Linked DNA regions of Homo sapiens: all the other regions are reported to be linked to region 1. Evidence: microRNA targets listed by miRTarBase, many of them from high-throughput screens and not tested one by one. Region 1 holds a microRNA gene; each other region holds the end of a gene's coding sequence.
Evidence for each region. Region 1 holds the annotated microRNA hsa-miR-1184 (CCUGCAGCGACUUGAUGGCUUCC, at 3,230-3,252, shown strand). A microRNA usually pairs through its seed, bases 2 to 8, with sites in the 3' UTR of a target mRNA and lowers its output. Matches are read on the target gene's strand: a 7mer-m8 pairs with bases 2 to 8, a 7mer-A1 pairs with bases 2 to 7 and ends in A, and an 8mer does both.

Region 2: miRTarBase lists TMEM109 as a target of hsa-miR-1184. Seed matches in the 3' UTR shown: 7mer-m8 at 1,118-1,124, 7mer-A1 at 1,528-1,534 and 7mer-m8 at 1,710-1,716.
Region 3: miRTarBase lists NRBP1 as a target of hsa-miR-1184. Seed matches in the 3' UTR shown: 7mer-m8 at 472-478 and 7mer-m8 at 794-800.

The regions. Positions count from the first base shown.
Region 1 is chrX:155,454,348-155,459,405 of GRCh38, forward strand. MIR1184-3 (microRNA 1184-3) reads left to right here and starts at 3,170; the gene lies at 3,170-3,268. It overlaps F8A3 (coagulation factor VIII associated 3), which reads right to left and starts at 4,273. Exons shown (of 1, transcript NM_001007524.2): 1 at 2,567-4,273. The coding sequence starts at 4,253. The coding sequence ends at 3,138.
Region 2 is chr11:60,921,637-60,925,665 of GRCh38, forward strand. TMEM109 (transmembrane protein 109) reads left to right here. Exons shown (of 4, transcript NM_024092.3): 4 at 138-1,807. The coding sequence ends at 529. It overlaps TMEM132A (transmembrane protein 132A), which reads left to right and starts at 2,824. Exons shown (of 11, transcript NM_178031.3): 1 at 2,824-3,097. The coding sequence starts at 2,998. It overlaps LOC124902676 (a long non-coding RNA gene), which reads right to left and starts at 3,761. Exons shown (of 2, transcript XR_007062688.1): 1 at 3,583-3,761. RefSeq lists silencers at 2,720-3,079, 3,140-3,359, 3,400-3,469.
Region 3 is chr2:27,441,391-27,445,419 of GRCh38, forward strand. NRBP1 (nuclear receptor binding protein 1) reads left to right here. Exons shown (of 18, transcript NM_013392.4): 17 at 177-232; 18 at 318-869. The coding sequence ends at 422. It overlaps KRTCAP3 (keratinocyte associated protein 3), which reads left to right and starts at 991. Exons shown (of 7, transcript NM_173853.4): 1 at 991-1,050; 2 at 1,189-1,373; 3 at 1,452-1,511; 4 at 1,684-1,890; 5 at 2,008-2,142; 6 at 2,559-2,671; 7 at 2,796-2,907. The coding sequence starts at 1,023. The coding sequence ends at 2,666. It overlaps IFT172 (intraflagellar transport 172), which reads right to left. Exons shown (of 48, transcript NM_015662.3): 46 at 3,906-4,029; 47 at 3,624-3,715; 48 at 2,987-3,131. The coding sequence ends at 3,042. RefSeq lists an enhancer at 1,126-1,668.

The DNA.
Region 1 (5,058 bases):
GCTGGAGGCCATTATTCTAAGTGAAGTAACTCAGGAATGGAAGACCAAATTACCCTGTGTTCTCACCTGTAAGTGGGAGCTAAGCTATGAGAATGCAAAGACATACAGAGTGATATAATGGACTTTGGAGACACACAAGGGGGAAGAGTGTGAGGGTGTGGGATAAGAAAACTACATATTGGGTACAATGTACACTACTCGGGTGATGGGTGCACTAAAATCTCAGAATTTACCACTATATAATTCATCCATTTAACCAAAAAGCACTTGTAAGCCAAAAGTTATTGAAATAAAAAAAAATTAAACAGTTATTGAGCAACTACTATGTCCTGGGTTCTAATTCAGGGGTGGGCAAACTATAGCCCCAGAATTTGGCCCATAGCCTGCTTTTGTACGGACTGTGAGTTAAGAATAGTTTTTACACGTTGAAAGGATTGCAAAGACAAACATACAAAGAAACAAAGAAGACTGTGCAACAGAGACCACCTGTGGTCTGTAAAGACTAACACATTTCTATCCCGCCCTTGACAGAAAGAGTCTGTGGGCTGCTGGTCTCCTCTAACGGTGGTAGAGATGCCTGCACGGTTAACATTAATCCTTGGCACCAGAATCCTCAGCACCTAGGAACCAGATCTTGCCTAACACGCTAATTTCAGTCTTGACCACCTTCCTCCGGCGTAGCGGTTCTCAAACGTCTTTGTCTTTGTACTATTCACGTATAAAATATTCTTTCATAAGCAACATTTATCCTTTTGGGAGTACCTCACAATGGGGAGAAGGGGAACCCCAACAGCCTTTAAGGGTTCACTGCTTCGCTGCCACCATTTCCGACGGTTTACACTGTTTTAAGTGTGAATTTGGAATTGTTTTCAAGTTAAAAAGCAAACTAATCATGTCCTCTGAAAGTATTTGCTTTTGGCATGCTAGAAATCAGTGTTGACTTTTGATACTGATGTGATACATTACGAGGGAATTCTCAAAACTGCTGAAATCTGGCCTCGGCCCAGTTATCACTGCTCTTAAGCTTCTGAGGGAGATACATGAATGAGCCCACGGCAAATGGAAAACGAGGAGTTTTAGTGTTTCCTAGAATTATGCTCAGATACCCACTACCTGACCGTCTGGTTATCCTTCCCCTCACCTCCCTGACGCAAGGAGTTTGGACCAGAGGCCTAAGGAGGCTTCTCCTGAAGCCCAAATCCCAAACTGGTCACCAGTCATGCTCCGTAACTCCTGAACCTGACAAGAAGCCAGCCGGCCAGGTCTGCAGCCCGGGTTAAGAGGAGCATACCAGGAAAGAGCCAAAGAGCAAAAGAGCATGAGCCCTTCAACCGCTTTTACAATAATTTGGGCTAGGCGTTCAGGGCTCCGTAGGACCCTTCCTGGCAGCCAAGTGAGAGAAAGAGGAATGATGGTGGAATGGGCCTCTCCTGTGCTTCCCATTACTTCCACACTGTCGAAATAGAAATAGAAGCAGAAAAGAACACCCTACAAGTCCCACCCATTTGGAGGCACTCAACTCACAGTGACAACCCTCCACACCTCTCCCCTGCAAAAAGACGCAAAACAAAAACACCTACTCCAAACTGTGTCCTTACATCTCAGCCCCGAAGATCAGGATTGTGTGCAACTTCGGCCCAAAGGATGCATTTCCCCAGGGTTGAAAGTTTGAGAAAGAGGCTATATTCTGAAGAGTTCTTGTTGTCACCATCAAAAGGATTAAAAAGACGCAATAAATAAGAAAACAGCGTAGTTGGGGGGCATGCTCCATTTGAGGCAGAAAGCCTTGGAAACTTAAGTGTTCTCAAACGGAACGCCATCCTGCTTTGGGGGAACACGGAGGCTGCCTTGCAGTCACGTGATCGCGCAACACCAAAGGGCCACGCACTCTGATTTCACCTACTTAACTAAAAGTTGCAGCAAAATCCCTATTACAGGCCAGGCGTGGTGGCTCATGCCTGTAATCCCAGCACTTTGGGAGGCCGAGGAGGGTGGATCATTTGAGGTCAGGAGTTGGAGACCAGCTTGGCCAACATGGTGAGACCCCATCTCTATTAAAAATACAAAAATTAGCCCAGCGTGGTGGTGCACGCCTGTAATCCCAGGCACCCTGGAGGTTGAGGTAGGAGAATCGCTTGAACCCAGGAGGCGGAGGTTGCAGTGAGCCGAGATCACGCCACTGCGCTCCTGCCTGGGCGACAGAGTGAGACTCCATCTCGGGGGGGGAAAAAAAAAAAAAAAAAAAAATCCCTATTACAAATAAAAGCTGTTGTGATCCAGACTGCATATACCTCTGCGAATGGAACCAGAACCGTGAATTCCAATGCAAATCGATGCATCGGCACCAGACCCGCTGCACTGGATGTATCTGCATTGCAGTCACCCGAGTACGGAGCACATCATAGATGATCTCTGCAGGTTCGTTGCCCACATAGGAGGCATAGCGCAAATTTCAAAGGAACGAATACATCCTGGAGCCCAAACAGCTATCTGGTTCTGCTGCTGGCCTCCTGACAAGTAGGTAAGAGAGTCACATTTTATAGACGACGGACACCAAAACCACACATGAGGAGTACAAGAGTAGCTTTATCATGGATTTAGGGCTGTGGTTACAAGGAAGCTGTAAGGAATAAAATGACTCCCATGAAGACGTACCGTGCGGACGAGTGGAAGGAGAAATTTGGCCATTACAAAGACACAGGAATATGTTAAGAAGTGAGGGGCAGGATGAAATCATCTAGGGTAGGTATTTAGAGGGAGGGCGCCGTGCAAAATAAAATCCTCACTATGAAACAAAGGCGGAGGCAGGAGGCTGCGTTGGGTGGAAGCAGCGGAGGAAGGAGACGAAAGGGATTGTCATTTTCATGTCGTGGCTTTTTAGAAGACAGCCATGTCCTCTACTCTGATTCTATCAAAATGTGTTCTCGGGGTGCTGGTAACGTTCAGCCAACGAAATAATTCCTATGGCGGCAGTAGGAATAACAAAACGCAGAAGCGGGAACGATGTCTTTTTATTCCTCCCCAGACGCAAACGTGGATGCATGAGGTTTGGTAACAGGCAAAGTCATCTGGTTAACGTGACTGATGCAAAAAGTCCCGGCCTGGGCAAAAAGAAGTCACTGGGTGAATGGGATGGATCAGACTCCCTGTCCTGAGGGGGAGATGGTTTCTTGCAGAACGAGGTGAAGGAGGTGGTTCTGCTCAGCAGTCAACAGTGGCCACATCTCCACCTGCAGCGACTTGATGGCTTCCGTGTCCTTTTCGTGGGTAGCCATGACCAAAGACTGGAGCAGCAGAAAGAGCTCCTCGGGAAGCTGGCCGCTGCTCTCCTGCCCGTGGCTGTCAAAAGCCTCCCAGGAGTACTTCTCCAGGGTCTGGGCGTGCTCCGGCAGCAGCTTGGCGGGCGGTGGTTGCAGGAGGAGCAGCAGCAGCACGCGGGACACCTCGCAGCGGACCAGCACGTCCGAGAAGGCGCCCAGGGCGGCGGGAGAGGGCGCCGCCGAGCCGGAGTTCGGAGGAAGCAGCGCGGCCGGTAGGGCGGGCGTCGCCCCGGGCCCGGGCTGGGGTGCCGGCGGCGGGGGCGGCGGCAGTGACTGCACCGGGTGGCTGCCGTGCTCCCGCGCCAGGCGCTGCATGCGCGTGAAGACCGCCAGGGCGCCGGTGTAGTCGCGCGCCAGCAGCTGGCAGGAGGCGGCCTCGCCAAGCGCCTGCAGCGCGGCCAGGGGCAGCTGGGGCAGCTGGAGCTGGGCGGCGCGCTGGAAGTGACCGGCGGCGGCGGCCGGCTGGCCCAGGTCGCGCAGGGCGGCGGCCAGCTCGAGGCAGAGGGCGGCGGCGGCGGCCGGCTGGCCCAGCTCGAGGTGCAGACGCACCGCGGCGCCCAGGGCGCTGGCGGCGGCCTGCAGCGGCTCCCCGTAGGCGGCGGGGCAGACCAGGCGCTGGCGCGCGTCGCGCTCCTGCCGCAGGAAGAGGCGGGCGGCCTCGGTGAGGGCCAGCGCCTCCCCGGGCCCGTGGAAGAGCGCCTGCTGGCAGCGCGCCACCGCCAGCTGGCACCAGGCCGCGTAGGGCAGACACTCCTGGGCGCGCAGCTCCCGGCCCAGCTGTCCGAACTGCTCGCCGGCCTCCGCCACGTTCGGCTTCCGCAGGAACCGCTTCTTCAGCTTGTTCGATACCAGCCGGTAGCGGGCCAGGAAGTCCCCGGCCTCGGGTCCCGGGCCGGCGCCGCCGCCGCCCAGGCCTGCAGCCGCTGCCGCCATGCTCGCCGCCCCAAGCACTTCCCGACGCGCCGCCGCAGCTGGCGGGCGGGCCGGGGCGGGGCGACGTGCCCTGCGTCCCCCTCGGCGGGCTGCCGCCGTGCCCGCGCCGGCTCCCCAGCCCGAGCCTGCCCCTTGCCCTGGTGAGGTGCAAAGAGCGGGATCGGAGGCGGGGCCTGGCCGGGCTGTGAGCGGCGTATGCAAATCGAGGGTCTCGGGGATGCGGATCCAAGACCCTGGGAAGGTACGCGGGGCCTGGCGGGGCACCAGCTGCTGCTAGCTCGGCTGCAATGCAAGTGGTCTAGGTTGCTAAAGGCATCCCACAGCCTCTCCATCTGAACATGACCCAAAGGAAACTCGTGACCCTAATTCCATGTCTGCGCATTTCTGGACTGTTGTCCCCCCCCCCCCCCCCGCCCCGACTACTCAGTCCTCCGTCTTCCGGTCCAGGGCCCCTTGCCAAGCACCGGGTCCACCTCTCCGTCCCCACCCCGGTTGCCTTAGAAGTCCGTCCTGTCGCAACACTGCAGTCATGGTCTTGAGGCCCACCCGCCCCAACGAACACCATCATGCTGAGGACTTTCCCGGGCAGGCCCTGACTTGCTCAGAACCAGCGGGGGTGTCCCCTTCCCACCCAGGGCCACTCCCCTGCACTGTCACCCGGAGAGACGGCTCCTCTGTGCCATCCCTGGCTCCCACCCAACCCCAGACCCCCACCACCTCTCCATCCCTCCAGCTGTGGAGGTCTCACAACCCCCCAACCCATCTCACCGCCCCCCCACCCCCACCCCAAGGCAAAGTGACTGAA
Region 2 (4,029 bases), not on the chromosome of region 1:
CCATATCACTCTGAGTCTGCGAGAACGGCTTATTCCTTTGCAATGTGCCTAGCACCTCCCACCCTTTTAGCTCTTGCCCCGCTCTCCCCTCACCACTTCTCCAGGTTGGCTGACTCTGTGACTCTCTTGGCTTCCAGGTGATTACCTCGCCCAGGGCCTGAAGCTCAGCCCTGGCCAGGTCCAGACCTTCCTGCTGTGGGGAGCAGGGGCCCTGGTCGTCTACTGGCTGCTGTCTCTGCTCCTCGGCTTGGTCTTGGCCTTGCTGGGGCGGATCCTGTGGGGCCTGAAGCTTGTCATCTTCCTGGCCGGCTTCGTGGCCCTGATGAGGTCGGTGCCTGACCCTTCCACCCGGGCCCTGCTACTCCTGGCCTTGCTGATCCTCTACGCCCTGCTGAGCCGGCTCACTGGCTCCCGAGCCTCTGGGGCCCAACTCGAGGCCAAGGTGCGAGGGCTGGAACGCCAGGTGGAGGAGCTGCGCTGGCGCCAGAGGCGAGCGGCCAAGGGGGCCCGCAGTGTGGAGGAGGAGTGAGCCGGATGCCCCACACACCGCCAGTGTCATACCAAAGAGCTGAGCTGCTTCGGGGCCATGCAGCCCTCCTGCCAGCCCCCTGCCCTTTTCTTGCCCTGTCTCTGAACCTTCAGAACATTGATCCTTGCCGCAGCCCCACTAGCCAAGAGAAACAGAGAAAGACCATTCCCCCTGCCTGTCCTTGCGGCCCTGTCTTCTGAGGTTCTCTGTCTGGGGTTGGCTCTCTTAACCCTTTCTCTGCTCCCAGCCTGCCTCACCAGGGAAGGTTGGAGGGGCCTCCCTCTGGCTTCTGCATCTGCGCCAGCAAACATCACTGCCGTTGGTCTCTCATGACTTAACTGGCTTCCCTCTGCTGCTGCCTTGGCTTCCTCCTAATGCTCGTGCTCTCCTGTCCTTCTGAAGTTGCTCCTTGGCCAAATCTCCAGCTCCCTTCTTGTTTTCCTCATCCTCCTACCCTGTACTCCCACCAAACCATGGTCCTTTAAGGCACGCTCCTGTCCTCCTCATTGCCCAGCAGTAGGGAGGGGCAGGGGTAAGGGGACCTGAGGATAAAGGGTGGGGAAACAGGGTCCCCTGAGGCCTGTGGGGGCTGCAGGGGAGGAGGATGTACCTTGTGTCTCTTTCAAGTGCCTTAATCCGAGCCAGCAGGGCCTTCTGCTTGCCTGCTGCCATACTGTATGTAGGAAAGTGTTCTGTGGCTGCTTTGTGTCAAGAAAAGAGCAGTCACTCTCAGAATCTTGATTCCCCATCAGCCAAAGCAAAAGATGGCTGCTGCTTTGTAGGCATGTGCCTGCAAGTGGGACCTTGCTGGGCATTATATGCCCTGTGGGGGTTTCAGAGACCCTGAAAGAGGAGGGAGGACCCGCCTCCTTGTCTGCACAACTGCATGCACTTCTCTCCCCATCGCTCCACAACCTGAAACCGAGAAGGAGTTGCTGACCAGTGCCCACCCCGGCAGCCCGGGAGGAACACAGGCAGCTCCTTTCCCTTCACGTGGTCTGCAGAGAGCAGGGTGAGCTGCCAGCTGCCCCTCTCCACCAGGGTACCCTGTCTTGGTGGTTAGGGGCCACTTTTCCTTTGAGGCTCTAGTGGAGGTGGATGTCCTTCTCTGCCAGGCTTGGCACATGATGTGAAGAATAAATGCCCAATTCTTACTGTTCAGGTTTGATGTGGAATCACAGCTGCAGTGATATATATTTTTTATCAGTGCTTGGTTGGTTTTAAATAAAGTGCACGCTATTTTATTATCTTGTTCTGAATAAAATGTATTTACTCCAAGTCTGGATTGCTTCCATGTCTCCTCTACTGCTAAACCCATTTCTGTAGTGCAGCTCCGCCTCCCAATTTCTCCCTGTGGGGGCAGTGTGAAGCTGGCAGAGGGGAGAGCTGAAAAGGCAGGCTGGTACCAGGTACCCTTCCCTCCAGGAGCACAAGGAATTAGGAAAGCATGCCCCCATTACAAAACGTAGGAACGACTGGCACTGCTGGAAATGCGTGTGCTTGCTGGGCAGAGGGGTCACCCCTTCCCTGCAGTGTGCTGAGGTGGGTGGGCAGCCTGGAGAAGACTTGCCTGCCCTCCCCTTCACCACCCACCTGAGGACTTTCCTGTGCCAAGGTTTCCAGTCGGCCCACAGGCTGGACCAATTTTGCGGAGGGCCTCAGACATAATTTTTTCTTTGTAAGCTGCCCAGGGCATGAGAGTGTGCAGCTGGGGCCCCTGCTCTGGGCCTCTCCCCAAACTGCCTGGTAGGCAACACTGGGTCAGGACCCTTGAGGCTGGCCTTCCCTCGGGAGTGTTGGGCAACCCTCAACCCTCCTAAGCGCTGCAGGACGCTGCCCAGGTGGAGCTGGTCAAGAGACTAGAGCTGCCTGCACCTAGAGCCCTTCCTCCACGGCGGTGGCCTAGCTCTGTCAGGGCAGGCTCAGGTGGTTGGCATCTGGCCCCGTTTGACCCCCTCCCTCCTTTCCTGTCCCTGCAGCTCCCGTCCCATGTGTCCCTGAATTCTGGTTCTGACTCAGGTGTCAGATGCCTTCACAAGTGAGCTGCTTGTGGGGGTGGGTGAGGCAGAGAAAGTGGCTTTTTCTTCCCTGATCAGAAGCTTCCGTGAGGGAGCCACACAGAACTCACCGAGTCCCTCCTGGCAGAGGCGGCCGTCCTCTGTTGCTTCCAGGGACGTGGCCCTCTTCCCGACCTCGGTCGCCTGAGCGCGCAGGGATTGGGGATCCGTAGGGCACTAGGACCCGGCGGGGCGGAGGGGGCAGCCCATGTGCTGCGATTCGCTCCCTCCCACCCCACTGCTCCCGCTCCATTGTCTGGGAATTGCAGCCGCGGGGCGGGCGGCGGCGGCGGCGGCGGCGGCCGGGACCCAGCGGGCCAGGTGGGGACGGCGCGGAGCGGGTGCGGGAGATGCCGTGCGGGACTGGGGCCACCTGAGCCGCCCGCCTCGTCCCCGCCTTCTGTGGGAAGGATGTGCGCGCGGATGGCCGGTCGCACAACAGCGGCCCCTCGGGGGCCCTACGGCCCCTGGCTCTGCCTCCTGGTGGCCCTCGCCCTGGACGTCGTGAGAGGTCAGCGGGAGGGGAGGGCCGGGGCGAGGGGCGGCCGGGCCCGGCCGAGTGGGAGCGAGTGATGCCCGGGAGCCACCAACCTTTGGGTTCTCGGACTGAACCCTGAGCGGGGTCGCCCCGCAGCGCCCTGAAGGTCGGAGAGTTCTTGCCCTCGGGAACCTGCCCCCAGCCACTCGCCCCTAAGGCTTCCTTCACCTTGCACGACCCGGCAACTCCTTCCTGACCCGGGGCAGCCCGGCGCAGGGGCTTCCCCGTCCCGCACCTTCTGCGAGGGACCCCTCAGCCCGGGCATCGAACCCGGCGGCCCCGGTCCCGGGCGCACTAGCGTCATCCCCACTCCCTCACTGTGGTCTGTAGCGCTGCACCCTCCTAGCCTCCTTCCGCCGCCACCAACCCACCCCCCTCGGGAGTGGAAAGCAGCCCCTTTGCCTGGGACCTGCAACAGACGCAAGCCCTCCCTCCCCCTTCCCCCAGGGCTCCCTGACCTTGGCGTCTCCAGGGATGGCCGCATCCTTGCCTTCCAGAACCTTTGAGAGGATTCCTGTCACTGCGGGAAAGGGCAGCAACTTCCCTGTGCTTCGGGGTGGGGGTCGGACTCCCTTGGCCTGGGCTAGCTGGGCTGTGGCTGCAAGGCAAAGGATGCCACAGAAGACAGAGGGACAGTGAAACATTCTCTGCCCTCCCCACCGAGAGAGCCGAGCGCTGGGTGATGGGAGTCCGTGGGAGTCAGGCTAAGAGCATCTTGTAATTATGGAGGCAATGGAGTAGGAGGCGAACCTGAAGCCAGTGGCTGCCCCCAGAGAGCAGTGGTCACTTGTTACGCTTGGGGCAGGGGGCAGGGAGAGCCTGTCAGTCATATGCTCCTTGGTGGGGAGGGCCAGGAAGGAGGTTGAAACCAATTCCCCCACCCCCACCCACAGTCCAGCTGTGGG
Region 3 (4,029 bases), not on the chromosome of region 1:
ATTCAGGGGTGGGGGAGGTGACAAGGCAGTAACACATTGACTCACATAGAATGACTATCTTAGACCCTAAAGCAGTGGGTGGATCTGACTGACAGTTTAGCCCTAGTGGGGCTGTCTGAAGGGCCCCAGGTCCCTCAGTCCCGTACTGTACTCACCCCCTCCTGTTTCTTTGTCAGATGAGAATATCCCCGAGTTGGCGGCTGAGCTGGTGCAGCTGGGCTTCATTAGTGAGGTGAGGTTTCTGCCTTCATCTGCCCTGGCTGCCCCCATGCCTTCTCTTCTCTCAGCCCCCATCTTACTGAGCTCTTCTCCCCCAGGCTGACCAGAGCCGGTTGACTTCTCTGCTAGAAGAGACCTTGAACAAGTTCAATTTTGCCAGGAACAGTACCCTCAACTCAGCCGCTGTCACCGTCTCCTCTTAGAGCTCACTCGGGCCAGGCCCTGATCTGCGCTGTGGCTGTCCCTGGACGTGCTGCAGCCCTCCTGTCCCTTCCCCCCAGTCAGTATTACCCTGTGAAGCCCCTTCCCTCCTTTATTATTCAGGAGGGCTGGGGGGGCTCCCTGGTTCTGAGCATCATCCTTTCCCCTCCCCTCTCTTCCTCCCCTCTGCACTTTGTTTACTTGTTTTGCACAGACGTGGGCCTGGGCCTTCTCAGCAGCCGCCTTCTAGTTGGGGGCTAGTCGCTGATCTGCCGGCTCCCGCCCAGCCTGTGTGGAAAGGAGGCCCACGGGCACTAGGGGAGCCGAATTCTACAATCCCGCTGGGGCGGCCGGGGCGGGAGAGAAAGGTGGTGCTGCAGTGGTGGCCCTGGGGGGCCATTCGATTCGCCTCAGTTGCTGCTGTAATAAAAGTCTACTTTTTGCTAAAAGCGTCGTGTGTTCGCGCCTTTCCCGCCAGGGGGAGCGGGCCCGGGGCGGAGGCGGGGCCCAGGTGGGAGGGGGACCCGGGACGGAGGCGGGGCCCAGGTTGGGGCGGGGCCGGGCCCAGGTACAGCGGCCCTGCGGCTGGCGCGGCGGACGGGATGAGGCGCTGCAGTCTCTGCGCTTTCGGTAACTTCCGGGCCCTGGCGTCTCGTCTCCTTACCCTGGGGCTACCCTTGCCCCGTCCTACTGCCCGCGGTTAACCCGCCGCGAGCCGCCTCTCCCCTCCCCGCCCGACTCAACCCTGCCCTCCCCCGTGCTTTGCAGACGCCGCCCGGGGGCCCAGGCGGCTGATGCGTGTGGGCCTCGCGCTGATCTTGGTGGGCCACGTGAACCTGCTGCTGGGGGCCGTGCTGCATGGCACCGTCCTGCGGCACGTGGCCAATCCCCGCGGCGCTGTCACGCCGGAGTACACCGTAGCCAATGTCATCTCTGTCGGCTCGGGGCTGCTGGTGAGCGCGGCAGGCGACCCGGGCGGGGGCCGGGCTCCCGGAGAGCCCAGCAGGCCAAAGGCTTTGTGTCTTCCACAGAGCGTTTCCGTGGGACTTGTGGCCCTCCTGGCGTCCAGGAACCTTCTTCGCCCTCCACTGGTGAGAGGGACTTCCCTGGAGCTTTTAACGAGTAGGCTTGAGTCAGGGAAATGGGGGCTGACTGAGCTTGGTCTTTCAATAGATTGGAGGAGCCTCAGAGAAACTGGGTGTCTAGTCACTGGGAGAGTTAGCCAGGCCCAGGCTGCTCACCCTGATCTCCTGTCCCTGCCAGCACTGGGTCCTGCTGGCACTAGCTCTGGTGAACCTGCTCTTGTCCGTTGCCTGCTCCCTGGGCCTCCTTCTTGCTGTGTCACTCACTGTGGCCAACGGTGGCCGCCGCCTTATTGCTGACTGCCACCCAGGACTGCTGGATCCTCTGGTACCACTGGATGAGGGGCCGGGACATACTGACTGCCCCTTTGACCCCACAAGAATCTATGTGAGCACATTCTCTTCCTTCTTGTGGTCTACAAAGCCTTGGTCCTGCCCTTTTAATTTCCCCTATTTGCTGCACTTGCCCTACTCCCTCCTACTCCCCATCCTTCTTGCTTTTCAGGATACAGCCTTGGCTCTCTGGATCCCTTCTTTGCTCATGTCTGCAGGGGAGGCTGCTCTATCTGGTTACTGCTGTGTGGCTGCACTCACTCTACGTGGAGTTGGGCCCTGCAGGAAGGACGGACTTCAGGGGCAGGTAAGGAAGGCAAACAGGAAGGGTTCATTCCACAGAGACTGGCTGTGTTGAAAAGATGCTGACCGGCCGGGTGCGGAGGCTCACACCTGTAATCCCAGCACTTTGGGAGGCTGAGGCAGGCGGATCACTTGAGGTCAGGAGTTTGAGACCAGCTTGGACAACATGGTGAAACCTCGTCTCTACTAAAAATACAAAAAATTAGGTGGGGTGGTGGGCGCCTGTAATCCCAGCTACTTGGAAGGCTGAGGCAGGAGAATCGCTTGAACCCGGAAGGCGGAGGTTGCAGTGAACCGAGATCACGCCACTGCACTCCAGCCTGGGCAACAGAGTGAGGCTCCGTCACAAAAAACAAAACAAAAAAAAGATGCTGACCTATCATTCAGGGCGAGGGTGTCTAACTCTATCTTCTTCTGCAGCTAGAGGAAATGACAGAGCTTGAATCTCCTAAATGTAAAAGGCAGGAAAATGAGCAGCTACTGGATCAAAATCAAGAAATCCGGGCATCACAGAGAAGTTGGGTTTAGGACAGGTAATGGGCCTTGAAGGTGGTGGCCCGGGTAAGAGCGGGGACAAGGAAGTGCTCTTAGAACTGGGTCTAGGTCTTGCCATGCTGCTTTCCCCTCTGACCTGGGTTGGTTCTCCCCTCTGTCCAGCAGGTGCTGTTCCGAGACTCAGTCCTAAAGGGTTTTTTTTCCCACTAAGCAAGGGGCCCTGACCTCGGGATGAGATAACAAATTGTAATAAAGTAACTTCTCTTTTCTTCTACTTGATTATGATTCCTTTTGGGGAAAAGGCACTGTGTGGTGTTGGGAATGACTTTGATCAAAGAATACAGTGGTCTCAATTATTTATAAAACTTTAATGAGGGAGAGGCCCTAACTCTTCCTCAGCTCTACCAACTACTGAAAGGAAAAGCTGGTGCTGGGGAGCCCTCCACACCACTGACTGATGAATTTCAGCACGTCCTGGCACACTGGGCTGTGGGAGGTCTGTGAGCAAATGGAAGAACATGAGAGGAACTTGTTAATGCTGGAAATACAAAATCAGCTCCATCGCAGGCTTCAGGGTCTGCATCTGCCTTCCTGTAATCCCACCCATCTTTCTAGTGTGTATGTGGGTTTTTTGTTTGTTTTGAGACAAAGTCTTGCTTTGTCGCCCAGGCTGGAGTGCAGTGGCACAATCTCAGCTCACTGCAACCTCTGCCTCTCGGGTTTAAGCGATTCTCCTGCCTCAGCCTCCTGAGTAGCTGGGATTACAGGTGCACGCCACCAGACCCGGCTAACTTTTGTATTTTTAGTAGAGACGAGGTTTTAACCATGTTGGCCAGGCTGGTCTCAAACTCCTGACCTCAGGTGATCCGCCCACCTTGGCCTCCCAAAGTGCTGGGATTAAAGGTATGAGCCACTGCACCCAGACTTGTTTTTTTTTCTTTTTTTAGTGCTGCCCTCTCTGCCTTCATTCTCCAAGTCCTCCTCTCTAACCTTGATGGCCATAAGGAATTTATTCCAGTTGTCCTTGTTAGCAGCCTTCCCTGGCCGCTTAAATTCAATTTTGTTCCTCAGAATGGGGTATCCTGTGGAGGAAGAAAAAATGATGAACTGGGGTTTGAGAGAGATTGAGGAGGGAAAAATGAGGAGCAGCCTGGGGGGTAGAAAGCACAGTCCTGTCTTTTGTACCCTTTACTGAATCCTAGTAAAATTAAGTTTATTGATCCTGCTGCTTTCTACCCACCACAGGATCTGGGGTGCTGTAGGCTTCTATACCTGTAATAAGGCAGGGCAGGGCTCGAACACCAGTGCTCGCTGCCACTAGGGAGGCCTCGTAGGCGCCACGCTCATCCCGAGGCAGAACCTGCTCCAGCCGCTGGTCCATGGAGACTGTAAGCAC